4 linked regions of the Homo sapiens genome follow. The protein of the gene in region 2 purifies or fractionates together with the protein of the main gene of each other region. This does not show direct contact. Each region holds a gene or a part of one and is shown on either strand. Other genes may lie near its edges.

Evidence for each region.
Region 1: the proteins of NAV3 (region 2) and KDM3A purify together in Homo sapiens (affinity purification with mass spectrometry; one large-scale study listed by BioGRID and IntAct). This does not show direct contact.
Region 3: the proteins of NAV3 (region 2) and CUX2 purify together in Homo sapiens (affinity purification with mass spectrometry; one large-scale study listed by BioGRID and IntAct). This does not show direct contact.
Region 4: the proteins of NAV3 (region 2) and PDX1 purify together in Homo sapiens (affinity purification with mass spectrometry; one large-scale study listed by BioGRID and IntAct). This does not show direct contact.

The regions. Positions count from the first base shown.
Region 1 is NC_000002.12:86,444,371-86,450,386, forward strand, and holds part of KDM3A (lysine-specific demethylase 3A), read left to right. Parts: intron 1-5,436; coding exon 5,437-5,592; intron 5,593-6,016. UniProt on the Homo sapiens protein: Histone demethylase that specifically demethylates 'Lys-9' of histone H3, thereby playing a central role in histone code.
Region 2 is NC_000012.12:78,002,557-78,010,703, reverse strand, and holds part of NAV3 (neuron navigator 3), read right to left. Parts: intron 4,286-8,147; coding exon 3,259-4,285; intron 1-3,258. UniProt on the Homo sapiens protein: Plays a role in cell migration. May be involved in neuron regeneration. May regulate IL2 production by T-cells.
Region 3 is NC_000012.12:111,314,837-111,322,983, reverse strand, and holds part of CUX2 (homeobox protein cut-like 2), read right to left. Parts: intron 8,015-8,147; exon of another isoform or gene 7,892-8,014; intron 2,973-7,891; coding exon 2,209-2,972; intron 564-2,208; coding exon 404-563; intron 1-403. UniProt on the Homo sapiens protein: Transcription factor involved in the control of neuronal proliferation and differentiation in the brain. Regulates dendrite development and branching, dendritic spine formation, and synaptogenesis in cortical layers II-III.
Region 4 is NC_000013.11:27,920,559-27,929,019, forward strand, and holds the end of PDX1 (pancreas/duodenum homeobox protein 1), read left to right. Parts: intron 1-3,697; coding exon 3,698-4,143; 3' UTR 4,144-5,755; downstream 5,756-8,461. UniProt on the Homo sapiens protein: Activates insulin, somatostatin, glucokinase, islet amyloid polypeptide and glucose transporter type 2 gene transcription. Particularly involved in glucose-dependent regulation of insulin gene transcription.

The sequences.
Region 1 (6,016 bases), on a different chromosome or scaffold from region 2:
CTCATGTAAGATGCCAATCTTCTGTCTCTTTTCTAGTCATGATTTATCACTGCATTCCTTAGTTGAGTAGCAGATGTTAAGTTTGGGGGCCATGTTGCATTAAAAAAAACCAGGATTTTATTTTACCTTGATTTTAGAGTTGGGGGGTCTTGTTGCCCAGGCTGGTCTGGAACTCCTGGGCTCAAAACACCAAAACCAATTTGTGCTTGGTGAGATGGAGGCAGGAACCAAGTAACTAAGACCATGCTTACACTAGGGTTTAGGGGCATTAAGTTTTTGGGGGGTGAGATGGGGGTGGGGCGAGGGGCTGAGATGAATGTCAATAAATAACATTCAAGTAATATGTAACCATTCTTCTATTATTAGGACAAATACAAGTCTGTCTAGACTGGCTTGTTTAGATAGTTATGGATGATATTAATGAGGCCAAGGCTTGTTAACTTTGTTTCACCTAGAGAGACTTTATAACAAAACCACTTACTTAGATGACAAAAAGAGAATATGTCTAGTAGTTGGTTACAGAGAAGTTAAGGTGAAGACATAATAACAGTGGATAACTATGATTAAATGGTTACATCAGGATTTAGCAAAGAAAAAATAATCATTAAATGGATATTATGTGGCGATTACTTCATTTAATCCTCACAAATATCCTAGATGGTAAACTACATTTTTAGTGTCAAAAACTGAGGCTTAAAGAAGTTAAATAACTTGAGTTTGTCTCCAGACCTTAAACACTAGGCTTTAATATTCAGGTAGAGCGAGGTTAGAGCATTTTATTTTGCTAGCCTCTATATCCCTAGCACCGAGAACACTGCTTGGCATGTAGTGTGTGCTCAGCTATTTGAATGGATAAGTGAAGGAATCATAAAATTATTACCTCTCCTATGGAGAAACAGTTTAGAAAGAATCTACTGATGAGGCAGTAGCATTCTCTTCATCTGGAATAACAACAGATCTTAATTAGATGTGGCTATAAAGACTGCTTTAATCTTATTTTTATCCTGCTCTTTCTACTTGAGTATGAAATGAGTTGCTTCCTAGCTGATTTTGTTCACATAATTATGCGTGGTGGGAATGCCCTGCTTCCTTAACTTGTCCTTTTTTCTTTGAAGCCTACCTTTTTCTTGAGTCTAATGCCCTGCTTCCTTAACTTGTCCTTTTTTCTTTGAAGCCTACCTGTTTCTTGCGTCTAATGCCCCTTCTTAGTCCTTACAGGTGTCCTTAGCAGGCAATTAGTCCTTGCCATCTGTATGTACCATTTCCTGCTATTGTCAGCAATTTGGTGCCTTGACTAATGCCTAGCCTTTCATTTTTGCACACCATTGAAACTTTAATGTTAGTGCAATCTGCTGCCAGTCAAGCCATGTAAAATGAAAAAACTTCTAGCACGGTATAAAAACTGTTTACCCCTTTTAATTGAATGCTGGACCTTGGGATCTTCGACAAACATTTAGGCATAAGAAGACATAAGTGGAAGCACAAGGAATTAATTTCTTTGTGGAGTAGTGAATTAAGTGGTATCCTGCATTGTAGTGCAAGGCATAAAATAGACATGTAATTAAAAATTTGTCTAAAAACCATATCATTCTGTGCTCCTGCTTTTAAACTTGGAAACATTTTCATTGGTGTTTCTGATGGCCTTTATAATCATATAGTCAGGTGAGATGAGAGTATGGTAAGAGTGGGAGATTTTGATATTAGTTTATTAGATACAATATTAATTCATATATCAGAAAGATTTTCTGTTGGGGAAACATTGGCTTGAAAAATCTGAAATATCGAGCATTTGGTCAAGGTGTTTCATAGGTACTAATAAGGTACACATTTGCAAAATACCCATTAAAAGAAGAGCAGATTTCACAATTATAGGTAGTGAATCATAGTTGACTCTGGCCTTTGAAGCCACACAGTGTAAGTCACATCTCATTGTGGGCCAAAGGAGCATGGGTGAAATAACACAATTTAGAATAGAAACTAGCTGCATCTGTCAGCTTGCATGAGCTTGGTCAAGTCACTTTAGTTCTTACTGAATTTAAATGTCTTTTTAGGCCAGGCGCAGTGGCTCATGTCTGTAATCCCAATAATTTGGTAGGCCAAGACGGGTGGATCATCTGGTCAGGAGGTCAGGAGTTCAAGACCAACCTGGCCAACATGGTGAAACCCAGTCTCTACTAAAAATGCAAAAATTAGCCAGGTGTGGGTGGCACTCACCTGTAATCCCAGCTACTTGGGAGTCTGAGGCACGAGAATCACCTGCATCTGGGAGGCAGAGGATGCAGTGAGCTGAGATCGCGCCACTACACTCCAGCTTGGGCAACAGATTGAGACTCTGTCTCAAAAAATAAAATAAGTGTTTTTTTGTAGAAATGTCCACAGAAGAAGCTTTTTTGGGGGATGTCATTAAGTGTAAAACCTCAAACCTTAAGGCACAAATGAAAGATGCTTTGTTTTTTCTGGAAATGGGGTCTCACTCTGTCACCCAGGCTGAAGTGCAGTGGCACAATCATAGCTGACTGCAGCCTCAACTTCCTTGGCTCAAGCAATTCTCCCACCTCAGCCTCCTGAATATCTAGGACCACAGGTGGGCACCACCACTCCTGGTTAATTTTTGTATTTTTTGTAGAGACGAAGTTTCCCCACGTTGCCTTGGCTGGTTTAGAACTCCTGGACTCGAGTGATCCTCCTGTCTTGGCCTCCCAAAGTGCCGGGATTACAGGTGTGAGTCACCATGCCTGACTGACATATATGGTTTTGATAGGAAACTTTTGAACAATATTGAAGAAAGCTCACAACTTGTTGGTTTTCTTATATATTTTTTAAAGTCATCTTTTTCCAAACCAAAATAATGTGATTTTTGGCTAATACAGCATAATATTTGAAAGTCATAAACTTAAATTGTTTTTAAGGAGGTAAACTTTTTTTTTTTTTTTTCAAATCACTCAAAAATTGGGATATGGAAAGGGGCCCTGTCTGTCTTTTGGTTTAGGGTTATCTTAAGCTTTAGATAGTGATCTGGTAAGAACTGTGATGTTGCTTAAGTTTTGGGAAACCACTTAAGATCTTAATCCTTCTTAATTCTGCACTTTTTTTTTTTTTTGCTGAATAGATATTAGATAATTGTGTTGAAGATCCTCTTTCCCCTGCTCCTAACTTAATAAGTGATACCTTGATAAGATTTGAATTAACCATGGAGGTATTAAAACTACCTAGTTGTCTTGCCAGACACTTTACATACACTGTCTTTTAAAATATGCCTAACTATGCAATGAGAGGTGTCACTTTTTTCATTTTGAAAAACATTGAGAGAACTTAGATTTTCTAAGTGAGGGTTCTTAACCTGGGGTGCAAGTTAGTTGGTTTCCTTTGTAATCATAAGTATTTTATTTTATACATGTAAAATCATTCTAAGAGAGATTCAGTGTAGCTGGGAATTCAAGGTCTCTGAATCTGGATCTAGAATTTGTGTGTGCTCATTCCTCTTATACCACATTGCTGATAAATAAGAAAACTGTCTACCTAAAGCTTGGTTGGGTTTGAGGTTGATGTGAATATGGAGCAGAAAGACTAGCCAATTTAGGGGAGATGTCAGAGCATATGGATTCTGTGGCTAGGAAACAGAAAGGAAGATGGGCAGTCTCTGCCCACCTTTATGAAAGACCATTTGGTTGATTACAGTGATAGAAAACATATAACCAGGGAGAAACGTATGTGGGCCTTGCCACGTGGGTGTTCACATTTATTCTGATTTGGAAAGTATTCAGTAATAACTGCAAAGTTAAAAGCCTAAAATACCAAGAAGATATGTAGTTTCCTAGGTAAAGTCGCCTGGGAGGTTAGGGATGCATGTTTTGTTGGCTGAGAAGGGTAGGATAGATCTTAGATTTCATTTATTTTTATCCTGTAGACTGGAGAAGGTTTGGGATTGGGGCTAATGTGGGAATTTAGTGCCTTCTAAGCAGGTGAGAGAAACAAGATAGGAACCCAATGCAGAGGGAAATTTATTCATTAATCTATGCTAACAAGTATTTGAGTACCAATTAGATTCCATATACTAGTGATATACAGTTGTAAGCAAAAGCAGAGACAGACTTTGACCTATTAGAATTTAATTGTCAATCAGTTAACAAATAAATAATGCAAAGTGTGGATAAGAGCTAAGACGGAAAAGTACAAAACTTTGAGTACAGTTAGTATGGGGACCTCTCTTGGGAGAGAGAGGCACTTTGGTAAGGGAAGGTTTGTTTGAGGAAAGGATATATGAATTGTGCTCTGATAGATGAAGTTAACTAGTTAATAAACTGAAGGTTGAAAAGGGATGTATGAGTGATGTCTGTAAAATGATGAACAGATTTGATAGATGATAGATGTATTAACTAATTCCTGGAAACCAAAATGAGAGACCTCTTTAGTAAGAGGAGGAATTTTAAATCAAATAAAAACAGTGATTTTTACACTGAATATCGAGGGAGTTTATTGTCATTGGTAGAATACAAAAAGCATTGAAGAGGACCTAGAGTAAGTTAAGGGGTAGCATATTTATAATAGGTTAAGGAAGCTGGAGTGTTTCAATGCTTTTATATGACTTTGAGTTTTATGGTTTTGTAAACAATTCCTACTCATAGATCACTCCCAGAAGCCCACTTTTAGACTGAATTTTCTTAATGTCTTTAAATATGTATACAGGTTTTAAGAGTTGTAGCCTTAGGGTTAAAAGTATTATGCAGGTCAGAAGCAGAAAACATTACAATTACTTGGAAAACAATATTTCAAGGTAGTTTAACTTTCATATAAGAAGCTAGAGATAGTTCTGAAAAACTTTGTGGTCATTTTGTTAATCACTCGTTTCTATGTTATCCAACAAGTAGTTTAAGACTCCAAATTCTGTGGTAAATTTCCTAGCTTATTCAACTGAAAGGGATATTGAAGATGTGCTGTATATTAGGCCTTGTGCTAAATTTACTCATTCCAGAGGAATTCAAAAGGAGGTGGTGGATTGTGGTGATGGGGGGTCATCTTAAGCCCACTTATATTGTCAATAGACAATTACAGTGCAGTTTTATTAAGTACATCTTTTGAGTTTCAAATTTTTGTCTTGCAATTCCAAAAGCTCAGATGTCTAATTAATGTATGTAAACGCCTGATAAGTAGGGGTTGTTTGGTTTCTGGGCTTCCCAGGGGTTTACTTTAGGGACACAGACTGGCCCAAAAAGCCTTGACTTCTGCATCCCGAAGTGAGTTGGGAGCCAAAGCCTGGTTCATGTGTGATTATGTATTGTGGGCTGTGACAGGAAGTGAGGGAGCTGGAAGGGGGAAAGCACATCCAGATAAAGGATTCAAATAGAATAATGAAGGTATAGTTCAGCTGGGGCATTTGTAATGCTTATTTTAATAAATTGAATCTGCTTCCCCCACCCCCCAATTTTGTCTGTCTAGGTGTGTGTGGAATTTGATGGGGAATCTTGGAGGAAAAGAAGATGGATAGAAGTCTACAGCCTTCTAAGGAGAGCATTTTTAGTAGAACATAATTTGGTTTTAGCTGAACGAAAGTCACCTGAAATTTCTGAACGAATTGTACAGTGGCCTGCAATAGTGAGTAAAACTTGGGCTTATTGAACTCCTGAGAAGAGGGCATTTTATCCATTGTGGGTACAAAAGGAATATGTAAATGTAATGCCAGAAAGTCAGAAAAGCTCCCAGGATCTCCTGCCAGCCCTTTTAAGAACTCTGCACTTCTGAGCGAGTCCCTTGACTTTGTTGGACCTCGTGTTCACTTGACAAATAGGGATGGAGGTAGTAGTGGGAATGTCTAGGTCAGAAGGCAGGAACTAGCAGTCATATGCAAACATATAGATCTGTTTGGTTTGGCCCTTGCAGTACTTTCAAAACATTTGAATTAATTGCCTACTTTAAAAAATGTGGAGAATACATCTGAAAATCTAGATTTCCATTGTCTCTTAAAAAATCTACAAGATAATGGCAACACTGGAGCCTTATGGCAGCAATGGGCTAGAGC
Region 2 (8,147 bases):
TTTCAATTATAAATGAGTTCTGATTGAGAATTTTGCAAGTGTACTATTGGCATTTTCCTAACCAGAATTTTCTCAGTAACAATACCTCTTATTTCTGTCACATAGATAGAACTGATAAGCAAAGCAAATTTCTACTAGCTTTATGATCTGAAGAGATTATTACTATTCTGACTTAATATCTCTGCTTCTTCATTTCTGGAAAATGGGGGATGACATTTTTTCTCATGAGTTCATGATGAAGTTTAAATGAGAAAATTCACATATATTTTGTGACACAAAGATTTTCACTAAGTAAGCACTCAACAAATGATAATACCAACATCAAAAAGTAAATTATTAGTCTTATCTCATCAAATGATTAGCAACTCCAAAAATAATTGTCAGGGATTTTATAGGAGGGATTCTTACATGGGGATAGAACAGTGAAAGTCAGAAAGAACATAAAAGGTTACATAATCCAAATGTCATGACTCTATAAACAAGCTTTTACTGAAAGCTGAAAAGAATGAATATTAACCACTCTGCCTTTTGAGGATTTACATATTATTTGTAAAATTGTTCTGCATTGATTTAAAAACTTTGAATGAATATTACTTTATATATAGACTTCAATGTGAAATTTTATGAGACAGTTTTAATTTATTTATTTATTGTAGAAACAGGGTCTTGCTCTGGTGTACAGGCTGGTCTCAAAGTCCTGGCCTCAAGTCATCCTCCCACCTTGGCCTCCCAAAATGCTGGGATTACAGGCATGAGCCACCATGCCAACCATAGTTTCATTTATTTTTAGCTATCTTATATTGTTGATAATAATAAAAATAATTACTGATATTCATGTAATTTGCTCAAAATCTGGCTGTGTGCTAAAAATTTTACATGGGATTATTTTCTTTAATCTTTCATACAATCAATCGAGGTAGGCATCCTTTATCAATCATACTTTATAGGATTAGAAAGTGAAGTTTAGGGAAGGCTGTTTACTATGTGGCAGATACTGTTCTACAGATAAATATCAACTCAATCTTCAAAATAGGCTAATGAGGTAGCTTCTACAATTATCATACCTATTTCACAGATTAGGAAATTGTGGGTCAGAATCTTTACATATATGACCCAAAGTAACACAACTGATCAGTGGTGGCATTGAGATTCCCACCTAGGCAACCACCACCACAAGATGCTGTTTCTGAACAATGGTAGAGTAAGACATATTCTATCGCCCTTTTTTTCTCTTTTTTTTTTTTTTTTTTTTTTTTTTGAGTTTCCCTCTTGTTACCCAGGCTGCAGTGCAAATGCACGATCTCAGCTCACTGCAACCTCTGCCACCTCCTGGGTTCAAGCGATTCTCCTCCTGCTTCAGCCTCTCTAATGCCTCTTTTCTTAGCTACTTGGCTACACTGCCTCACTTTTATAGTCTTGTTGTTAAAGAGGTCAAACAGAAACTCAAAGAGTTTCTCAAAGAACTCATCAGGTTCACACAGCGGATCCACACTGTAACTTCTAAGCTGTGCTGCTGTGCTGCTTCCTGTTTTTGATATTTAAAAGTTACATTTTCAAATGGAAACCACTAAATTTGTTTCCACTGGATATTTTATTGCAAACAATTTTTTTAAAAGCTTGTTGCTACTTATAGAAAGAAGCCTACTAAATTAGCAGTTCTAGATTTACACTTTCCTATGAAATTCACTTGTGATTTTTTGAAAGGATTGATGTTTTTACAGAATATATTTGTAATCCAAAAGTGTGCTGAGTATGACATATTTAAAACTTCATGATTTTTTTTCTCACGTTTTTGAAATGTGGATCATGATTTTGACATCTTAAATTCTGCTTTGTCAAACAGGGACCCTGGAGTCAGAAGGAGCTGCAGACTCCCATCTGATCCAAATACAAGTATTTTAAATGAGTTAGTACTATTGAAGTCAGAATAGCAACATTCAATTGTAATGTCCCAAGAGCTTAAATGTAATAATTATAATAATTTTGTTTTGCTGAGTGTATAAAAAACCTCAGAAAAAAAGCACTTACATTCCTCATTGAGCAAAAAAATAAATCAGTATAAACTGCTTTATTTTAAAAACTTTTACATTCAAAAAATTTAATAAAATTTTAAACTATATAGTTTTGACCCTTTCTTAATTATAGTGGGTCCTGCTTCCTATTCATAAAATTTTCTTTCTGTAGTTAAATTGCCAACCTGCCCGAAAGAGGGACAAAGCAGACATTATTGCTCCCCAGGCCATCTCCTTACCAACCAAGCAGTGAATAAACTGGGGACACAGCAGTTACTGACATATCTCTAATCGATTAAAACAAATCACAGAACAACAAGCAAAGTGTTGTCTTTACCATTTGGATGGTAGGATGCATATTTTAAAATGCATAATAATGCATTTAAAAATTTTATATTGTGTATTTCAATGCCTACAAAATAAGAATGCAAAGTAAAATAAACAATAAATAAATAAAAGGTAAAAAAAAAACAAATCAGTAATACAACCCAAATAAGTAATACAAATTATATATGTAACCCCTTTTACCTAGAAACCTATGCCTTGCTGTGGGAAATTAATATAAAATTTACACTGAGAAAGTAATATCTTATAAATAACATTTGAAGAACATTTGCAACACATCAGGATATACAGTAAACATGTTATATGCATGACCTCTGTTAATAGTCTCAACTCTACAAAGTAGTGCATGGTTCCTATTTGACAGCTGAAGAAAATGAGACTAAAGAATGTTAAGTAACTTTCCCAATGTCTTATAGCTGAAAAGTGGCAGAACTAGGAATGAAATCCGCAACTTTATCATTTCAGAGGCTGCCTCTTTAACCATTATGGTATACTTTCTCCCAAAGATGACAACAAAAATAACCGTAAACGATGTAAAAGTGAGAATTATTTTAAAAGTCTGCCGCTAGTAATAGAAGCAGTATAGTAGTAGCAATAATATGAATAAACACAAGAGAAAGTTGTGGCATCTGGTTTCTAGCTGGCTTTTGATAACAAGTAATTCAATTTTTGAAGGTCTCAATTGCTGACAGGGAATGAGAGAGGGAATAAAACTAGATCCTACTGGAAGTCTTTTTCCAGACTAAGATTCCGCACTGAATTCTAGGCCTCTATCTTTAGCATGAAACTTTACTCCAAAATGACGACATAAAGCACCACTTTATCAGCCTTCCCTATTACACTCTGAGTATGTAGGCCTGTAAATATATTTACAACTGTGGATAAACAGAGGCCACCTTACCTGTAAATGAATGGTGCCACTGTCGCGGTATTCGGGTGGCTATGTTGCTGCTGTTGAGGGAGTTGGACAGCACCATTTCCTGTGCTCTGCCCACTGCTTTGTGCCACTGTCATGGTACAGGAACCAGAAGGAGAAGCTTGGCCAGCTTCCCTTCCTTCCAAAGGGGCAGGACAACTAGAAGCACTTGCTTTCTCCATGGTTATAGGCTTAGATAAGGACTGGGAAGGGCTCCCCTTGGTAGTCCTGAATTTCTCAGACTCTTTGCTTGCTGTGCTGCCAGGTGAAATGGTTTGCTTTACTGTTGGAACTTTAGAGCCTGGTTTTGGAATACCACTGGAAGACGGAATTAAGCTTTCCTTCTTAGCTGCTGTTGTCTTGCTGCCCTTAGGGATCAAGCTTGCAATTTTGGAGGTCTTTTTTGGAGCCATCTCTGTCACCTGATCCTTCTCTTCTTTGACTGGTTTTTCAGTGCAAACTTTATTTTTGTCCCTGTTCTTTTCTTCTTTTTCCTTTGGCTGTAGCAAAGACTTTTTATTGCTGAGATTTTTGCTTCCAGCTTTTGGAGGGGCCAACTTAGGTGACACTTTGGGACTGCTATTTGTTGAGCCACCACTATTCAGACCACTGTTAAAACCTTCCATTTCACCAGATTCAGAAAAGGCATCATCATCCTTCCCACCATCACTAGGTCCTGAACTGGGAGGCTGCGGGGGGCGTAAAGCAGTCCGGGCATTGACTAGCTTGAATTTCTCAAGCATGGATTTCTGTCCTGAGGGAGCAGTTTTGACCCCTTCTGAGACAGGTGGCTTCAGTCTGTCTGAAGATGGTGTGGGGGAGGTGGCTGTACTTGACTGCTTTACAGTCAACATGGTGGAGGTGGCACTGTGTTTGACATTCATGGACTTGCTGCGCCAGGGCTTGCTGGCACTTGGAGAAGGGATGGCAGAGGCAGGAGGCTGCCCAGCAGTACTGGGAGGCTGCACGTTACCATTTACACCTGAAGACGATTGAGGTCCTTTGGAGGAATCTGGACATTGTTTAGAAGAAAAATAAAGAAAAGGCGATTAATCTTGATCATTTATATTACATAATTGAGAACTTCCAAACTATTGATGGATAGAAGTCTCTCTCCTCTGAACTGAAAAGAGACTGCAGCATCAATCACTTCTCTGATGTGATTTTTTTTTACCATATTTCAAAAATGCAGAGTGTTTGAGAGGCATTGATTCTGGGGTGGGGGCTGTGGGGGGACGTGTTTATTTTCCCCTCTGAAATTACTCTTACCCAAATAAATTTGCTAGTCACAGATATCCAAAGATGAACAAAACACTATCCCTCCTCTAAGCAATTCTCTTTGTTATTTTCCAACCACCACTGTAGCCCATGCTAGTAAATGGATATTCCACCTTGCCCTATAAAAATATGTTGTATAATGCTTGAACTCGGGAAGCAGAGGTTGCAGTGAGCTGAGATCTCACTGCTGCCCTCCAGCCTGGATGACAGAGCAAGACTCTCTCTCAAAAAAAAAAGTTATTTATGATATTTCGCTTTATTCTATAATGAATATAATATGAATAATTATTACAAATATAATTATGCTAACTGACATTTTATTGAAGGTTCTCTAACTGCATTATTTCACAACAGCCCATTGAAGTGGGAAGGGCTCATATTCCTAATTCCCATTTGTAGAAACCAGAGCTTAGTAAGCTTCATTCAATGATTTAGGTATCTAATGAGGAGTGTATGGTGGAGCTAGGCTTTGACCCCACATCTTGTCACTCTACAGCCCAAGCTCTATAATTTTCTTGGAATGTCAAACATTCTAAGTGTTTACCACAGTCATTCTCAAAACTTTAATGTGCACACATGATACTTGGGGATCCTGTTAAATGCACATGTGATACAGCAGGTCTGCAGTGGGCCCTGAGGTTCTGCATTGCCAACAATCTTCTGAATGATGCCGTTGCTGCTCACACACAAGTCATACTTTGAGTAGCAAGGGTTGAGTAGACTCACAAATTCTGAAAACTGTTGGCCTTTTCAGTTTTAAAGGGCTGTTTCTTAACACAGTCCCCCAAATTGCTAAATTCATTAAATGTTTCATAGCTATGCAATATTAACATTTTTTACTGAACTTTCAGAACCTTGGCTAGCTCTGAGTTCACCTGGATGTTTAGCAGTTTGCTTCAAATAATCTCTAAAACCAAAATAAACTCTTCAGGTTCCCCTAATGTCATTTTTTCTCATCTCTTTGTCCACATACTTGTTATGTATCTTCTGTGCATCTACAACTAGGTTAAGAAGTAAGAGTGTGCCTGGGAGCTTCGGTGGGGTTGATCGGAGAGGGTAGAAAAGAACCAGTCAGGATGCTTTTTTAACTGGCTGATGAACAAGGGACATAAGAGAAGGTGCTCTTTCCTTAGAAAAGAGAAACAAGTTGAAGACATTAGCTAGAAGACTGCTATAGAAGTTCAAGTACAGAAGAGGAATTTCAACATCACTGCACCCAAAACTGAAACAAGAGGGACTCTGAATTATGACATCCACATCCAACCCACAGTAATAGTCATAACAGCAGCTGTAACATCATTCTCAGGCGAGTACACACATATAAGATACTTCCTGAAGCTCCGCTCTAAATCTGTCCACAGCCTGTCCCTATACAGAGGCAATGAGATGCTTCAGATTTCATTAAGAGGGCAAATCATAGGTTGTTGTGCATCAGGAAGGCACTGGAATAATAAGAGTCTCTCTGGACTCCTCACAGTAAAGATTGCACAACAGCAGCTGAAATGGCAGCACCTGTAGTTTCTACAGAATGAATGTAGTCACAAATTATAATCGTTGCCATTTATATATTCAGGAATAAGTAGCCTGGTCTCAATGACATATTTCTGAATGTTGATTACTCAACTTCTGACTATGAATGAATCTCAGCATGGGGAAAATAACAGATTTCTAATGCACATATTTAAAGGCATTCCAAAAATGGATTTGTATCTTGCATTTTTATGGGCTATCTCTGCTTACAGCCTTACCTCTTGTCTATGGTCCCCAAATAGCAATTTGCTTCCACTCCCTGTCTTCTGCTTCCTCTTCTTATACCTCACCTACACTCACCATTGCCAACTCCACCATAACCAAATAATATTATTCATCTACTGCTTACTTTATTCCAAGTACATAATAAGTACTTCATACATGGTATCTCATTTAAACCCATAATAATCTACAATATGCTTATGATCTCTCTTGTTAAAAATGAGAAAATGAAAACTTAGAAAGATAATTTGTTTTCAATCATACATATGGCAAAACTTAGAAAAAACAAAATCTAAATTGGAACTCATTTTTATCTGACTCAAACATTTGGAAGATTTTCACTGTCTCTTCTTTCCACATGTTTACTGCATGCCAGAAATTCTGCTGAAATGGCTCTCCAGCAAGCCACATTTATCGCACAGTCAAGTTAATTGGGTAACTCCTTGTTTTCCTTCTTCCTTGGTGAGCAGGATATAAATGGGGAGAACATCACACAAGACACTTTATTCAGGTATTATATACCTTCTTCTTTAGCATCTTACTTGCACCTGTTCCTCTGAGTTGATGTGAGAATAGATATTCGTTCACACTTGCAAAACATCTAAATTCACAGAACTAATGTCTAGTTATCTCATCTTGTAAATAAACAATATTGATGACTTGGGAACAATGCCAACCAAGTTCTAAAATTAATACATGGATGTAAATGTGGCAGTCACAACAGGCATATGGAAAGTTTATAGTGGGACATTTCTCTCTGGAACCTCAGTTAGCTGTAGAGTTAGCACCATGTTACCAAGAGTGGTATCAGTCTGAGAAAGGACATAGAGATGATTCTTAATCGCTTATCTCTTTTTCCTCACTGAATAGTGCGTTGCTTTGACAAAAGTAAACTAGGTTCCAACTCTGAAATATAATAAGTGACAACAAAAATGATGACAAAAGCACCATTCATTTCTGAAGTATTTCCTGCATGGCAGGCATTGTGCTCATTGATATAGATGGTCCCTGCTGAATATAGGATACTTTAAGCATCACAGATCGTGGTGGAAAGAGGAAAATGATTAAACAATGTGGCTATGCCACTTATTTTGATAAATAATTAGGACTTTAATTCCACAACAACATACCAAATGCTTTAAAAAAATTAAGTTGAAGAAAAGTGGCAGTCAAATCTAAATATGTCTTGGTATTAAGTGGATCCTCATGCACCTCCTCACACTGCTTTGCATAAATAATTGCTCGTGTATTGCCTCAGTCATCAATTTTATAGTGACTCAAAAGAAACATGGGGTGGAGTTTTATAGGGATCCTAGAAGAGCTGTTCATTCTGCACATGCTTATATTGTACCTTTGCAATATTAGAGTGCCACTCTGTGGAGAGTTGTACAATTTAGAGAAGCTTACATTCACTCACCAGCCAGTATGTAATTTATGTACAGGCATATATACTTTGTGGACACCTCAATATTTGTGCATGTATGCATAAACCAACAACACATATGGCCAAGTCTATTTAGTCTTATAAATTGATATATACATAGATATAAATATATAGATATAGATATATACATATATTTACACATATGCACCTAGTTATGGTAACTCATGGAAAGAATACTAAAATCCCTGAAATTATGACATTAACAACGTATTTTAGGCTTATATAAGTATTAAGTAATAAAGCATTAAAATGCATAATTAGATCACCAGTAAAATAATAACTAAAGCACATTTGCACTGGCTTGAAAAGAAAACAGTTCAGTTCTTTGACTTTATTGTAATTTCAGAGTAATTAAAAAAACAAAGTGTTTAAGAGCTAGACATCTATGTTTTAGCTGAAT
Region 3 (8,147 bases), about 33 Mb from region 2:
CAAGGCCCTGTGCTAAGAAGGAGTCTGAGGCTGCACGCTAGGTCTTCAGGAAACAGAGCTGAGATCGATGAGCAATTCCAGATGTGGGACTCCACATGCAAAACACATTCTCCACCTGCTCTGAGCACCATGGAGCCACTTGGAGGCTTAAAGCCAGGACCCAGTGCATCAGGCGTGCAGCTTCTAGAAGCCTCCCTCTGGTTGGAGGAAGGAAGAAAGGGGAGCAGAGAAACCCCAGGACCCCCCGCCATGTTCCAGTGCAGCCATGACAGTGACTGGGATGAAAGCCAGGGCAGCAGGGAGGGAGAGATAGGTAGACTCGGGCAGTAAAGCCAGGCGGACATGCCACTGCGCAGGTGGGAAGTTTGCCAGCACCCCCTGAGATGCTCCTGCCCGCACTCACCCTGGGAGGCACCAGGCTGCTGGCCCACTGCCTGGCCGAGCTGGTCAGAGAGCCACAGCTGCATGCGGATGAAGGGCTCCCGCCCCTTCTGCGTCAGCTTGCTCCATGGCTTCGGCCGGGACAGCATGTCGCTCACGCTGCCCTGTGACAGGCCCAGCACCTGCGAGGGGCGGGCCAGGGGGGTAGGTCAGCAGGCCCCTGGGACATGGGCCTGGCCCTCACTCTCCTCCCCAACCTTTTTTTTTTTTTTTTTTTTTTTGAGGCAGAGTCTCGCTTTGTCTGTCGCCCAGGATGGAGTGCAGTGGCACCATCTCAGCTCACTGCAAACTCCGCCTCCCAGGTTCAAATGATTCTCCTGCCTCAGCCTCCTTAGTAGTTGGGACTTGTACCAGGCTGGTGCACGTCTGGCTAATTTTTGTATTTTTAGTAGAGATGGGGTTTTGCCACATTGGCCAGGCTGGTTTCGAACTCCTGACCTCAAGTGATCCACCCAACTCAGCCTCCCACAGTGTTGGGATTATAGGTGTGAGCCACCATGCCCAGCCTCCCATCCCCTCCCCTCCCCTCTGTTGGAGTCCAGGCGGCCTTCATTTGTTCCTCATAGGTGCCTGCCATGTGCTGTTGCTGTGCCCTTCCCCTCCAGTACCCTCCCTAATGTCCCTACATGTAAAAATCCTTCAGTGCCCCCCTCCTCCAGGAAGCCTTCCCTGACCTCCCACTTAAGTCATTTCTCCCTCCTCCGAGCTTGCCTGGCCCTTTGCCTATTCCCTTGCTAAAGGTAGAGGTGACACTTAAAACTGGCATTGCAGGGGCACCAACCAATCAGGAAACACTGAGGTCCCCTGGCTAGGGTGAGCTTTATTTAACCCTTTCTTTTTAAATTTTTATTTATTTTTGGGGGGATGAGGTCTTGCTCTGTTGCCCAGGCTGGAGTGCACTGGTGTGATCATGGCTCACTGTAGCCTCGACCACCTGGGTTCAAGCAATTCTCCCACCTCAGCCTCCTGAGTAGCTGTGCACCACCACACTTGGCTAATTTTTTTTATTTTGTAGAGATGGGGGTCTTGCTACATTGCCCAGGCTGATCCCAAACACTTTTTTTTTTTTCTTTTGAGATGGAGTATCGTTCTGTCACCCAGGCTGGAGCACAGTAGCGAGATCTTGGCTCGCTGCAACCCCTGCCTCCCAGGTTCAAGTGATGCTCCTGCCTCAGTCTCCTAAGTAGCCATGACTATACCGGCACAGGACACCAAGCCCAGCTAATTTTTATATTTTTAGTAGAGATGGGGTTTCACCATGTTGGCCAGGATGGTCTTGATCTCTTGATCTCATGATCTGCCCGCCTCAGCCTCCCAAAGTGCTGGGATTACAGGTGTGAGCCACCGTGCCCAGCTTAATTTTTGTATTTTTTAGTAGAGACGGGGTTTCACCACGTTGGCCAGGCTGGTCTCAAACTTCTGGGCTCAAGAGATCTTCCCACCTCCGTCTCCCAAAGTGCTGGGATTACAGGCGTGAGCCACCAAGTCCTGCCACTTAACCCTTTAGTGGCTGGACCTCAGGCGATCTGGAGGGGCCTGGAGGAGGGGAGTTAAGTGGCTGTTTGCTGGCCAGGATGGAAGCATTTCCTGGTTTTAACAACCACGGAGCAGAACAGTGGCCCTCCTTCCTGCGGGACCCAGGGACAGCAGGACTCAGGAATGAAGGGCCTGGGCCCCTGGGGTCCCGCCAGCCTGCTTGGGTGGGCATCCTACTTCTCCGACATCTTCTCCCAGAGCCCAGACACCGGGGGCCCGCCCTGCACTCACCTTCTCCCCGAAGATCCTCTGGCAGATGCCGTTCTTGGCCAGCTTCTCCTTGACCTGGCGGGTGAGCTCCAGCGTGTCTACCTCACGGTACATGTACAGCTCGTACTGCTCGGGGGTCAGCGGCGGCACGGTGGGCTTCAGGGTGCGCGGCACGTAGGCCGGGTAGTAGGGCAGCCGCGCGCCCGCCTCGGCCGTCGCGCCCTCAGCCTTGAGCTCGCCCGTCCTGGGGGGTTCGTCCTCCGCCCCTGCCGCCGCCTCGTCCTCGGGGGGCACAGGGGCCTCGTCCCCGCGGGGCCAGGCGCGGCCGTTGGGCTGGCCAGAGTAGCCAGAGGAGGAGGAGGAGGACAGCGAGGGCGACACGGAGGCGTAGGGGCGGCTGAGCAGGCCGCGGTCGGAGGCCCAGTGGTGGTCGAAGTAGCCGGCGTCGCCGATCTCGGACTTGACCTTGCGGATGATGCTCTGCACGAAGGCGGCGGGGGACAGGACCGGGAGCGGCGCCTGCGCGGGGCCCCCGCTGCCCTCCTCCTGCTTCACCAAGGCCGGGGCCCCGTTCTGGCTCGCGGTGGCCAGTGATGGCCGCTCCGGGGGCGAGGGGGGCACCGAGCGGCCCCTGGGCGCCACCTCCATCTCCAGCAGCGCCTGCTGTTGCGCCTGCATCTCACGGCGTGCCTGCTCCAGGATGCTCTTGATGGCGTCCTCCGAGGTGCTGGCGGGGGTCGTGCCGTTGGCGATGCTCAGCGGGGCCACCGAGGTCTTGGGCTCGCCTGCGGGGAGGGGGACAGGACGGCCCGAGGCCCAGGGTCAGGGCTCGGCATGCAGGGGACGATGTTCACAGCATCCCTGTTGATGCCAGCACGGTGTCCAGGCAACCTCTGTGTCCAGCAACTGGGGATTGGCTAACTAAATTATGATCCCTCCCTGTGGCAGAATATTAGGCAGCCACCCAAAATTCGGTTGACAGTGAGGTTTTGGCATATGCAGAGAACATGCTCATGCGGATAATGCAATGCAAACACAGACCTGACTTTTGTTTTGTTTTGTTTTGAGATGGAGTCTCACTCTGGTGCTCAGGATGGAGTGCAATGGCACGATCTCAGCTCACTGCAACCTCTGCCTCCCCACTTCCAGCAATTCTCCTACCTCAGCCTCCTGAGTAGCTGGGATTACAGGTGTGCACCACCATGCCCAGCTATTTAGCTTTAGTAGAGACAGGGTTTTGCCATGTTGGCCAGGCTGGTCTTGAACTCCTGAGCTCAAGTGATCTACACCTCAGCCTCCCAAAGTGCTGAGATGACAGGCATGAACCACAGTGCCCGGCCTGACCTGACTTTTACATAGGCAATGATCCAACCATGTAAATGTTCAAAGACAAAGAAAACACGAAGGCACAGAAAAGTGGCTTGTTCACTTGTTCTGTTTTAAAAAAAAAATTCTTTAAAAATATTTCTTTCCTTCCTCATTTCCCTTCCCTTTCTTCCTTCCTTTCTTTCATAGAGATGGGGTCTTGCCATGTTGCCCAGGCTGGTTTCAAACTCCTGGCTTCAAGTGATTCTCCTGCCTGGGCCTCCCAAAGTGCTGGGACTACAAGCATGTGCCACCATGCTCAGCTAATTTTTGTATTTTTTGTAGAGACGGGGTTTTGCCATATTGCCCAGGGTGGTCTCAAACTCCTGGGCTCAAGTGATCTGCCCTCCTCAGCCTCCCAAAGTGTAGAGATTACAGGCTCGAGCCACTGTGCCCAGCCCTTCACTTGTTCTAATAGCAATGAATCCAAATGCCCATGCAGAGAATGGATCAAAAACAGTGGGATGGGCCAGGCACAGTGACTCACACCTGTCATCCCAGCACTTTGGGAGGCTGAGGCAGTCAAATTGTCTGAGTTTAGGAGTTCGAGACCAGCCTGGGCAACATGGCAAAACTCAGTCTCTGCAAAAAATACAAAAATTAGCCAGGCGTGGTGGCTCACACCTGTACCTCAGGGTCTGAGTTGGGAGCATTGCTTGAGCCTGGGAATTCGAGGCTGCAGTGAACCAAGATTGCACTCCGACCTGGGTGACAGAATGAGACATCCATCTCTAGAAAAAAAAATAGTGGGATGATCACACAATGGAACACTATGCAGCAGTGAAAAAGGAAGTCCTTATGCAAAATCAGATATGAATCTTTTTTTTTTTTTAAAAAAAGAGATGTGGTCTTGCTATGCTTCCCAGGCTGGAGTGCAGTGGCTCGATCTCAGGTGCGATCATAGCTCTCTGTGGTCTCAAACTCCTGGGCTCAAGTGGTTCTCCTGCCTCAGCCTCCCGAGTAGCTAGGACTACAGGTATGAGCTACCGTGCCCTTTGTGTGAATCCTAATAACATAATATTGAGTGAAAAAAGCAGGTGAAGGCTGGGAGCAGTGGCTTATGCTTATAATCCCAGCACTTTGGGAGGGTGAGGCAGGAGGATTACTGGAGCCCAGGAGCTCAAGACCAGCCTAGGCTACAAAATGAGACCCTGACTCTACAAAAAAGTGAAAAAAAAAAAAAAAAGAAAAAAGAAAAAAAAATTAGCCAGGCATGGTGGTGTATGCCTACGGTCCCAGCTGAGGCAGGAGGATCACTTGATCCTGGGAGGTCGAGGTGGCAGTGAGCCATGTTTGCACCACTGCACTCCAGCCTGGGCAACAGAGTGAGAGCCTATCTCAAAAAACAACAACAATAACAACAACAACAACAACAAAAACAAGTCCAATAAGATGGCACTCAGTATCACGTTTTCTTTTTTCTTTTTTCTTTTTGACTGAGTCTTGTTCTGTTGCCCAGGCTGGAGTGCAGTGGCGTGATCTCAGCTCACCTCAACTTCTGCCTCCCAGGTTCAGGCAATTCTCTTGCCTCAGCCTCCCGAGTAGCTGGGATTACAGGCACTCGCCACCAGGCCTGGCTAATTTTTTTTTGTATTTTTAGTAGAGATCGGGTTTCACCATGTTAGCCAGGCTGGTCTCAAACTCCTGAGCTCAAATGATCTGCCCACCTTGGCCTCCTAAAGTGCTAGGATTACAGGTGTGAGCCACCGCGCCCGGTCGGTATCACATGTTTTCTATCAAGTTCCATAACAAATAACATAAACACTATATGATTTAGTGAAAAACCTTTTCTACAAATGGCAAACACAAAGGAACAACAGGACAAAATTTTAGGATGAAAGACATCTCTGGGAGAGGAAGGCAGGGGTGGGATGGGGAGGAAAATGCCAGATCTCAGTTATTGGGAATTTTCTAAATCTTGGGTTGGGCAATATGTTCCCAGAGGTTCATTCTGTCATTTACATGAGTGAACGAATGAATGAATGCATGAATATACACACACATATATACACATATATATATATGCACGTGTGTACACACATACACACAGACACCTGAGAGAAGGCCATGCAGGCGGCAGCCCTGAGAGTGTGTCATGAACCAAGGATAATAGATGGATCTGTGCCCTGAGGAATGACAATTAACCAGTAAATGAAAAGGTGCTTCCCTCTGCCCTCAGAGAAGCGTTCCCGACACCAGAGTCTCTCTAGCTCTGCAGAAAGCCAGATCAATGTAACCCCTTCTTCATTATCTCTGTGTAGCTTTCATCCTAGTGGGTCCTCTTAGACCCATTAAAAATAATTTTCATTGCTTTTCCAATTAAAAAGTAATATAGCAATGGAACATTATTTTGTCATAAAAAGGAATGAAGCACTAACAGGGGCTACAACAGGAATAAGCCTTACAAACATGGGGCTGAGTGAAAGAGGCCAGACGCAAGGTAGCACATATGATATGATTCCATTTACACAAAATGTGCAGAACAGGTCAATCCACAGAAACAGGATGCAGATCAGTGGTTTCCAGGGGCTGGGGGGAGAGTGGAAAGGAGAAGCACTGCTTAATGGGTATAGGGTTTCCTTCTGGGGTGATGAACATGTGTGAACTGGAGAGAGATGATGGTTGCATAACACTGACTATACTAACTACTACTGAATTGTACACTTTAAAATGGTTAATTTTGGCCGGGCGTGGTGGTTCACGTCTGTAATCCCAGCACTTTGGGAGACTGAGGCAGGCCGATCACTTGACCTCAGGAATTTGAAACCAGTCTGGCCAACGTGGTGAAACCCCGTCTCTACTAAAAATACAAAAATTAGCTGGGCGTGGTGGCACGCACCTGTAATCCCAGCTACTCAGGAGGCTGAGGCAGGAGAATTGCTTGAACCTGGGAAGTGGAGGTTGCAGTGAGCCGAGATCACACCACTGCACTCCAGCCTGGGCGACAGAGCTAAAGACTCTGTCAAAAAAAAAAAAAAAAAAGAAGTGCCGGGCGCGGTGGCTCAAGCGTGTAATCCCAGCATTTTGGGAGGTTGAGGCAGGCGGATCATCTGAGGTCAGGAGATTGAGACCAGCCTGACCAACACGGAGAAACCCCGTCTCTACTAAAAATTAAAAAAAAAAAAATTAACCGGGCGTGGTGGCACATGCCTGTAATCCCAGCTACTCGGGAGGCTGAGGCGGAATCACTTGAACCCAGGAGGCGGAGGTTGTGGTGAGCCGAGATTGCGCCACTGCACTCCAGTCTGGGCAACAAGAGCACAACTCTGTCTCAAAAAAAAAAAAAAAAGCTTAATTTTATGTTATGAGAATTTTACCTCGATTAAAAAAAACTCATACTTGCCTACTATGGGAGCACAGAGGAGCATGCAAAAAAAAGCACAAAAAGTCAAGATCAAAATGAAAGTCACCCTTACTGTCTCTTAGGAGCAACCACGTGAAATATTCTCATGTATTCCCTTCCAGTCTGTTTTCTAAACTACATGCATCGCATGATCATACTCGATATGTGGAAGTGTAGTCTGGTTTGTCCCCATTTAGTATCAACATGAGTGTTTTTTTTCTTTTTTTCTTTTTTGGAGACAGGGTCTTGGTATGTTGCCCAGGCTAGTCTCAAACTCCTGGGTTTAAGCGATCTTCCTGCCTCAGCCTCTCAAGTAGTTGGGACTACATGCATTTGCCACTATGCCCAGCTAAATTTTTTCTTTTTTTTTGAGACCGAGTCTTGCTCTGTTGCCCAGGCTGGAGTGCAATGGCGCGATCTCGGCTCACTGCAACCTCTGCTTTCCAGGTTCAAGTGGTTCTCCTGCCTCAGCCTCCTGAGTAGCTGGGATTACAGGTTCCTACTACCATGCCTGGCTAATTTTTGTATTTTTAGTAGAGATGGGGTTTTGCCATGTGGTCCAGGCTGGTCTCCAACTCCTGACCTCAAGTGATCCATCTGTCTTGGCCTTCCAAAGTGTTGGGATTATACAGGCGTGAGCCACTGTGCCCGGCCCCATTTTTTCTTATCATTAAAAGTTCTACCTTTAAGGGCTGCACATGCTGCTAAAGGGATATTATCTGCTTTACTTACCAGATCCCCCACTGCTGGACACTTAGGTTGTTTTGTTTCCAGTTTGTCACTCTTATGAACAATGATGGAACAGCTTATATATAAACCCCTGTCCCCATTCTGGACATTTCCTTCCAATCCCAGAAGTAGAACTCGTGATTGAGCAGTTAGTCACATTCATTTCCTCCCTGGCAGCGGCTCATGTGCCCACTGCTTAGCATTCATTTTTTTTGCCAGGGGTATGGGGCAATAACCTTTGTATTTTTCCTCTTGCTGAACTCCTAGACCCTGAATATAAGACTACTGGCTGGCCCATGGAGAGCAAACGTTTTCCTCTGCTGCGATGCTGTCTTTGACATTGCCCTGGTGCCTGCTTCCGACCCCCAGGAGAAAGTGCTGTATAAAGAGGTGAGAGACCTGGGGTTTCCCTCTGTCTCTGTGTAACTGAACTCATGTCTTCCCTCCCTAGCCTCAGTTGTCCTGTCGGTTTAGTGGGAGACTTTGGCTAGTTATTTCTTTTTCTATTATTTTTTTTTGAGAC
Region 4 (8,461 bases), on a different chromosome or scaffold from region 2:
CCACCCCTTTCTCCTTTCCGGTTCTCACCCGGCCGCCTTACCTCCAAGCGCTCCCAGGAGCCTTCTCTCTGTTCCCGGCGCCTTGGATTATCCCGGGTCGGACTAAACTACATCAGGGAGCTACCGAGCCCATCCCTCACAGCAGTGCTTCTCTAGTCCAGTTTGAAGCATCTTTCCCACCCAGCTCTCCTGGGAGTGTACACTCCTTCCTTCCCTGTTCGCTGAGCCCATCTTCGCCCCAGGAGCCCGCGCTCCCAGCGCCATCCTTAGAGAGCCGAGGCTGAGTCCTGCTCAGGGCTTCGGACACTACAGATCCTCCTCCAGCAGGGGATCCGGGAACCCAGGACTCCTTGGTAGTGCACATCGAGGAAGCCGAGTAGGGACATGGGTGCCTCGGACCCAGGCCCCAGATCGCCTTCGGAGCCCCGGAGCCCCTCACTTCCCGCGCTTCGTTAAGGAAGGGCAGGCATCTAGGGGCGCCAGGTAGGTGCAGAAAGGCAGGGAGGGAAAGGAAACTGCACCCAACCCAGCAGTGTCCGGCTGCCCTGGTTGTGGAAACAGGATAGGAGTAAAGAGGAAGGGGCTGGGGCAAGGCGGGGGCTCACCGCGAGGCTGAAAGCCGGCCTCTCAACGTCAGAGCCTGGCAGCTAGGAGAGCAATCTGAGAAGCGAATTCGTTTTTCACCAACCGAAAGCAATTGAAGCTGTCTCCCCGCACCGCTTCCCAGGAAGTAATTTTTCAGGAGATGGGCGCTCCCTGCCTAGCTGGTGGGGAGGCGAGAGGCCTGGTTCCTGCGGCCCTCCGCGCCGGCAGAGAACAGAAGGTCTTTCCCGGAGCCGGGAGCCGGAGGCACGGGGTAGCCCCCGGGTCCTTTGCGGCCCCGCGCGAGCGGCAAGTTCCGGCGCGGCCTGTGTCGTCGCCGCTACTCACTGTCATCGCTGCCGTGCCTCAGCCACTTCTGGTCACACCTGCACCGCAAATAGTTGCCTTTTCCTTTCAACTGGCAGCCGGGAGTAGGGGGAAGCAGCTCGAGCCGGCGTCCCCCGGCCCACCCCGAAAATCCTCAGCGCCCATCTGCGGGGTCTGGCCAGCCCTGCCTGACACTGACCCCAGGCGCAGCCAGGAGGGGCTTTGTGCGGGAGAGGGAGGGGGACCCCAGCTTGCCTGGGGTCCACGGGACTCTCTTCTTCCTAGTTCACTTTCTTGCTAAGGCGAAGGTCCTGAGGCAGGACGAGGGCTGAACTGCGCTGCAATCGTCCCCACCTCCAGCGAAACCCAGTTGACAGGGGCGCCAGAAGCTGCCGCGGCGCCTCTGCAAATTTATCCAGCTCGCGCAGCCCGGGCCAAAGGCCTTGAAGTCTCCGGAAATGCGGGGTTCTTAGGAGGCGGGAGGACAGTCCCTCGAACAAAGGTGGGGGGCTCCTCGTCCTCACCCAGTTTTCTTCCAGGGCTGCCTCCCCTCCAGACCTCTCTTCTGGCCTCCTAGGCCCTCGGAGCTCCTGCTTTCCCACCCTGGGCCTTCCTCAGGAAATGGGCGACATCAGGGTCCCGAAAGAGGATTTGTGAGGTGGAGTAACTTCCCTATCCCAACCCAAGGGGTGATACCTCTGCTCTGGAGGACTTGGGCTTAGGCTGACCCAAGAAGCCAGAAAGTAAAACCAGAAGGCAAATCAGCAGCCTTGGCGAGGGTTCGGGGACCCAAGGAGGGCGACACTCTCGGGCTGGAGTTGGCCCCAGGCCTTTGCTGGCGCCCTCTAACCCGCTGCATGCTCGACTCTCGGGGAAGGAGACGACCTCCCCTCTCTTCCCCTGGAAGCCGTCTGCGGGGCCGGCTGCTATCCCCGCGTTCCTCTAGGGGAAACTTCGATGGAGCCGAAATTCAAAAATTGCAAACCCACCTGCCCCTGGGAAGAGCGAAGTGACAAAAGGGCTCTCACTGGCAGTACGAATCTGAATGCTAATGACAACAGAGGTTTTGAAAAACATTGACCCCCAAATGCTTCAGCAGCGCTGTCCAGCTGGCACCTAAACTGCATCACTCTGCGCCTTGGGGAAGGGCCCAGGCTTGGCGACCTTGACCTTTTCCCACCATCCTCAACCTCCACCCCTGCCGCGTCGCGCTGAGCACAGGTCCCCCGGGAATAGTGCACCCCAGGAAGTCTCTCCCTGAGCAGTCTCTCGCAGGGACTTCACGAAGCCCTCTCGCAGGGACTATACGAAGCCCGCAGCCTAAGGCAGGAACCCAGAGACATGTCGGTTTAATGTAAAAACTTTGGAGAGCCTTTCAAAATGTTTATTGAAGGCCCGTCTCGCTTCTCTCCCAGGCGTGGGATGCCAGGTAGATTCGGGGATGCCCCCAGGGAGTAGAACTCTCCCTGGACTAGGGTTTGAGCCTCTGCTTCAGCTTCTGGCGCCTCTTCTCGACCTGGGGGGAAACCCAGTAGGGTTCCATCGCGAAATTAAACCCGCCCCCAACACACACACACTCGCCTTTCAATTCCTTAAGGCTTAGCCAACATTCACAGGAGAAATGTCCCCTGCCTTTGCTCTAAGACAAGCCTCTCCCCGGAACTTTGGTGGAACTTCCCGCGCCAGCGTCCACAGCCTGGGTGCAGTCAGTATTTTCCACAGAAAAGAAAAGATTGGGACCTGGCTGAGCGCAGCGGCAAACAGTGAATGTGGGTCTCCAACCTCCTGGGCCAGGGCGTCCTGTTGCCTCTTGGAGACACGAGAGGCTTGTTTCTGCACCACTACCACCTCCTCCGTAGGGCTGTCGGTTCTGCAGCTGGGCTAGGGCCCCTGTGTCTCCCCTCAACACCTCTGAGGGCATTTGGGATCCAGGGCGTAGAGTCTGGAGCTGCCAGAGTTCTGCCCTGGCCAACGTGACCCCCAGAACAATATTCCTTCACTTCGCGGGCAGAAGTCCGGCTGAAGTTAAAACAATTATGGAGAATTTGCTGGCTCTCAGGTTGGGACTAATTACGATATAACTATAGAGAGAGGAAACACATGGTCAGATATAACAAAATGTGTCACAGTCTCCATTAGCACAAAGATTTTCAAACTGCAGGTTGCACCCATTCGCAGGTCATAAAATCAATTTACTAGGTTGAGATTAGTATTTTTTAAACGAAATAGCAGATAATGGAGAGAAAAGTAGATAGCATCATACGTGGTAAACGTTTGTTTTATGTCCTTAAGATTTGTCAGTATAACTGACCTGCAGTGTCCGTGTGTGAACTACACAACGATCCGAAATGTATTTCTCACATTTGTGGGTCACCATCAGGAGGTTTTTTTTAGCCCTGGATTAAAGGCGTTTTATTGCCTTTGTAGGATCCAGCCGGTTTAACTATTATATACATTTAAATCAACATCAATCAGTTGATTAACACCGATTATATGAGCGCATTCAAGGACCACTCATTGGCAGAGCCAAGCTTAGGCTCACGGCGAGAGCTGACTCGAGTTTGGTCTCCAATAAAAAGGCTATCTTTATTAGGAAGGGCTTGAGTTACTAGGGAAGAGCTTCGCGCGCCTACACTAGGCGCTGAAATGGGATGCTGGGGCTTGGTGGCTCCGGCGGGAGCAGCTGGTAGGGCTAGGGCTCCCTGGCCCCCCTTGAAGGGGTTGGGCTGCGTGGGTGGGGGCTGTGCGGGGCTCCGGGGGCCACACTCACGCCCTGTGTCGCCCGCAGGCGGCGCCTACGCTGCGGAGCCGGAGGAGAACAAGCGGACGCGCACGGCCTACACGCGCGCACAGCTGCTAGAGCTGGAGAAGGAGTTCCTATTCAACAAGTACATCTCACGGCCGCGCCGGGTGGAGCTGGCTGTCATGTTGAACTTGACCGAGAGACACATCAAGATCTGGTTCCAAAACCGCCGCATGAAGTGGAAAAAGGAGGAGGACAAGAAGCGCGGCGGCGGGACAGCTGTCGGGGGTGGCGGGGTCGCGGAGCCTGAGCAGGACTGCGCCGTGACCTCCGGCGAGGAGCTTCTGGCGCTGCCGCCGCCGCCGCCCCCCGGAGGTGCTGTGCCGCCCGCTGCCCCCGTTGCCGCCCGAGAGGGCCGCCTGCCGCCTGGCCTTAGCGCGTCGCCACAGCCCTCCAGCGTCGCGCCTCGGCGGCCGCAGGAACCACGATGAGAGGCAGGAGCTGCTCCTGGCTGAGGGGCTTCAACCACTCGCCGAGGAGGAGCAGAGGGCCTAGGAGGACCCCGGGCGTGGACCACCCGCCCTGGCAGTTGAATGGGGCGGCAATTGCGGGGCCCACCTTAGACCGAAGGGGAAAACCCGCTCTCTCAGGCGCATGTGCCAGTTGGGGCCCCGCGGGTAGATGCCGGCAGGCCTTCCGGAAGAAAAAGAGCCATTGGTTTTTGTAGTATTGGGGCCCTCTTTTAGTGATACTGGATTGGCGTTGTTTGTGGCTGTTGCGCACATCCCTGCCCTCCTACAGCACTCCACCTTGGGACCTGTTTAGAGAAGCCGGCTCTTCAAAGACAATGGAAACTGTACCATACACATTGGAAGGCTCCCTAACACACACAGCGGGGAAGCTGGGCCGAGTACCTTAATCTGCCATAAAGCCATTCTTACTCGGGCGACCCCTTTAAGTTTAGAAATAATTGAAAGGAAATGTTTGAGTTTTCAAAGATCCCGTGAAATTGATGCCAGTGGAATACAGTGAGTCCTCCTCTTCCTCCTCCTCCTCTTCCCCCTCCCCTTCCTCCTCCTCCTCTTCTTTTCCCTCCTCTTCCTCTTCCTCCTGCTCTCCTTTCCTCCCCCTCCTCTTTTCCCTCCTCTTCCTCTTCCTCCTGCTCTCCTTTCCTCCCCCTCCTCTTTCTCCTCCTCCTCCTCTTCTTCCCCCTCCTCTCCCTCCTCCTCTTCTTCCCCCTCCTCTCCCTCCTCCTCTTCTTCTCCCTCCTCTTCCTCTTCCTCCTCTTCCACGTGCTCTCCTTTCCTCCCCCTCCTCTTGCTCCCCTTCTTCCCCGTCCTCTTCCTCCTCCTCCTCTTCTTCTCCCTCCTCTTCCTCCTCCTCTTTCTTCCTGACCTCTTTCTTTCTCCTCCTCCTCCTTCTACCTCCCCTTCTCATCCCTCCTCTTCCTCTTCTCTAGCTGCACACTTCACTACTGCACATCTTATAACTTGCACCCCTTTCTTCTGAGGAAGAGAACATCTTGCAAGGCAGGGCGAGCAGCGGCAGGGCTGGCTTAGGAGCAGTGCAAGAGTCCCTGTGCTCCAGTTCCACACTGCTGGCAGGGAAGGCAAGGGGGGACGGGCCTGGATCTGGGGGTGAGGGAGAAAGATGGACCCCTGGGTGACCACTAAACCAAAGATATTCGGAACTTTCTATTTAGGATGTGGACGTAATTCCTGTTCCGAGGTAGAGGCTGTGCTGAAGACAAGCACAGTGGCCTGGTGCGCCTTGGAAACCAACAACTATTCACGAGCCAGTATGACCTTCACATCTTTAGAAATTATGAAAACGTATGTGATTGGAGGGTTTGGAAAACCAGTTATCTTATTTAACATTTTAAAAATTACCTAACAGTTATTTACAAACAGGTCTGTGCATCCCAGGTCTGTCTTCTTTTCAAGGTCTGGGCCTTGTGCTCGGGTTATGTTTGTGGGAAATGCTTAATAAATACTGATAATATGGGAAGAGATGAAAACTGATTCTCCTCACTTTGTTTCAAACCTTTCTGGCAGTGGGATGATTCGAATTCACTTTTAAAATTAAATTAGCGTGTTTTGTTTTGTTTTGTTTTTGTTTTTGTTTGAGAGGGTCTCATTCTGTCGTTCCTGGGTTCCTCTTTTTTTCAGGGATTCTCCTACCTCAGCCTCCTGAGTAGCTGGGATTACAGGCTTACACCACCACGCCCGGCTAATTTTTGTATTTTTAGTAGAGACAGGGTTTCGCCATGATGGCCAGGCTGATCAGGGTCTATTTTTTTCGGTACTAATCAGGAAAAATCAGGTAATTAAGAAATAGTGCACTTGAGTTTTGAGTTGGAGCACCCTGTGAGGGGATGAATATCCAGTTTTGTTTTATTTTTAATTTAAGAATATCTTCTCATGATGACTTTCTCGGGTAATATAGTCTAGAGCGTGGGAGACAGCTCGGAGTACTGCTGGCCAATACTGCTTCCTGGCAGAGCCAAGCGCCGCCCACCTGACGCCTCAGTGCTGCGGGTGGTGAGACCCGTCGCTGGCTCCCACCATGGTCAGGTCTCCTCTTTCCTCCCAAAGCTGAGGACGCAGGCGAGGCCGTTTTCTGTGACCCTTCCAAAAGAAGCGTTGTTTTGGATGAGTCTCTGTCCCCGGAGGCCGAGGGCCAAAAGTGTCTTATGTTAGAGGCAAAGATGCCCGGATTTAGAGGGCTTCCAACCCCTAGGACCACTTTGCTCTTCCCTGCAGGAAGCTCTCAGATGGGCGCCTTAGCCCGGTGGTGCACCCGACGGCCCTCCCCGGCGCTCCCTGTGTTCAGTACCAGTACCTCACTCCCAGGCGTCGCTGCTTTTCTTTTACTTTTTGCAAAGATAGACGCTGTTTGTTGTTGCCGTTTTGTTTTGTTTTGTTTTACTGGAGAGAGATATCGAGTCCCTCGGGATAAAATTAAGTCCCTTGGATCAGAAAGGGGAACTTGCGCATCCTTGAGAGTGCTCTTTCCTTGCGGTTCTCCACACCCGCCTGGGCTCTGGGGTGGGGCAAATCTGCGCTCGCATCCTTGGTCCCTCAAATATTGGCCCAGCCCGAAGTCCTGATAAAATGATTCGAACTCTCAGTGACTCAGTTTCTTCATCCAGAAAGTGGAGGCAAATACTACTTCATGGAGTTGCTGTGAGGTTTAAACCAAGAAATACCTGTAAAATGCTAATTCGGCATCTAGGAATCCCTCCACAAACAGTAGCTATTGTTTTAGGCTGTCATCGTCGTCGTCGTCAGAGGCAATCGGGAGCTGCTGTTGTGGAGTTTCTAAAGTCCCCCACCAGTCCCCCGGCAGCCCCTCCCCTCTGGCAAACCCCCACACTGTCGCTGTTGATATGAGTTTTATTCCTCTACCCACTCATCTTTCCCGAACACTGCCTAGTTTCAGGATGCCCTTCCTCATAAATAAACTCCCTAGGTTTTCCACAGCAAACTTCACCAGGCAAAGAACTGCAGCTCCGCCGACCAGTTAGTTGGTGGAGGCGCAGAAACTTGTCCTCGGACCCCACGCAGAAGCCGCCGCCCTCTCCAAGGCTCCGGCCCCGACTTCGCTCTGCGAATTGGGCCAGCCGCTGCTTTTCCGCGAGACCCGAGGGTTCGCCAAGGAGAGGAGAAGAGGCACAGGCTGCCTGAGACTGGTCTTCGGGCAGCCGAGGGCGCGGGATGACTCGGGCAGGCGTGTGGCCTCCGACTGACCAGGGTTGGGCCCGGGATCAGAGCTTTGCTTGGAAGTTCTCTGGGTGGCAGAGACTCGGGCAACCGGAGCCTGAGCCTCCCGCGGGGAAGAGCTCGGACTCCGGAGGTCGCGCCGCCTTGGGCTTGAATTCAGTCCTTCCTTACTACTCGTGGCTTTGCTTACATCATTTAACTCTCCATTTCCTTGTCTATACAGTGGGCTCATAAGGAGGCGGTAAGGAGATGATGATGTCTTTGAAGAGTTTAGGACAGGACCTGGTGTCTCCCGTACGCTTGGTGGGGGTGGCGGAGGTGATGCGTTGTTAACAGGAGAAACCGACCTTCCAGGGAGGCCCAGGGAGGCAGCGGAGAGCGAAGTCCTGCTCGGCGGAGAGACCTCGAGGAGAGTATGGGGAAAGGAATGAATGCTGCGGAGCGCCCCTCTGGGCTCCACCCAAGCCTCGGAGGCGGGACGGTGGGCTCCGTCCCGACCCCTTAGGCAGCTGGACCGATACCTCCTGGATCAGACCCCACAGGAAGACTCGCGTGGGGCCCGATATGTGTACTTCAAACTCTGAGCGGCCACCCTCAGCCAACTGGCCAGTGGATGCGAATCGTGGGCCCTGAGGGGCGAGGGCGCTCGGAACTGCATGCCTGTGCACGGTGCCGGGCTCTCCAGAGTGAGGGGGCCGTAAGGAGATCTCCAAGGAAGCCGAAAAAAGCAGCCAGTTGGGCTTCGGGAAAGACTTTTCTGCAAAGGAAGTGATCTGGTCCCAGAACTCCAGGGTTGACCCCAGTACCTGACTTCTCCGGGAGCTGTCAGCTCTCCTCTGTTCTTCGGGCTTGGCGCGCTCCTTTCATAATGGACAGACACCAGTGGCCTTCAAAAGGTCTGGGGTGGGGGAACGGAGGAAGTGGCCTTGGGTGCAGAGGAAGAGCAGAGCTCCTGCCAAAGCTGAACGCAGTTAGCCCTACCCAAGTGCGCGCTGGCTCGGCATATGCGCTCCAGAGCCGGCAGGACAGCCCGGCCCTGCTCACCCCGAGGAGAAATCCAACAGCGCAGCCTCCTGCACCTCCTTGC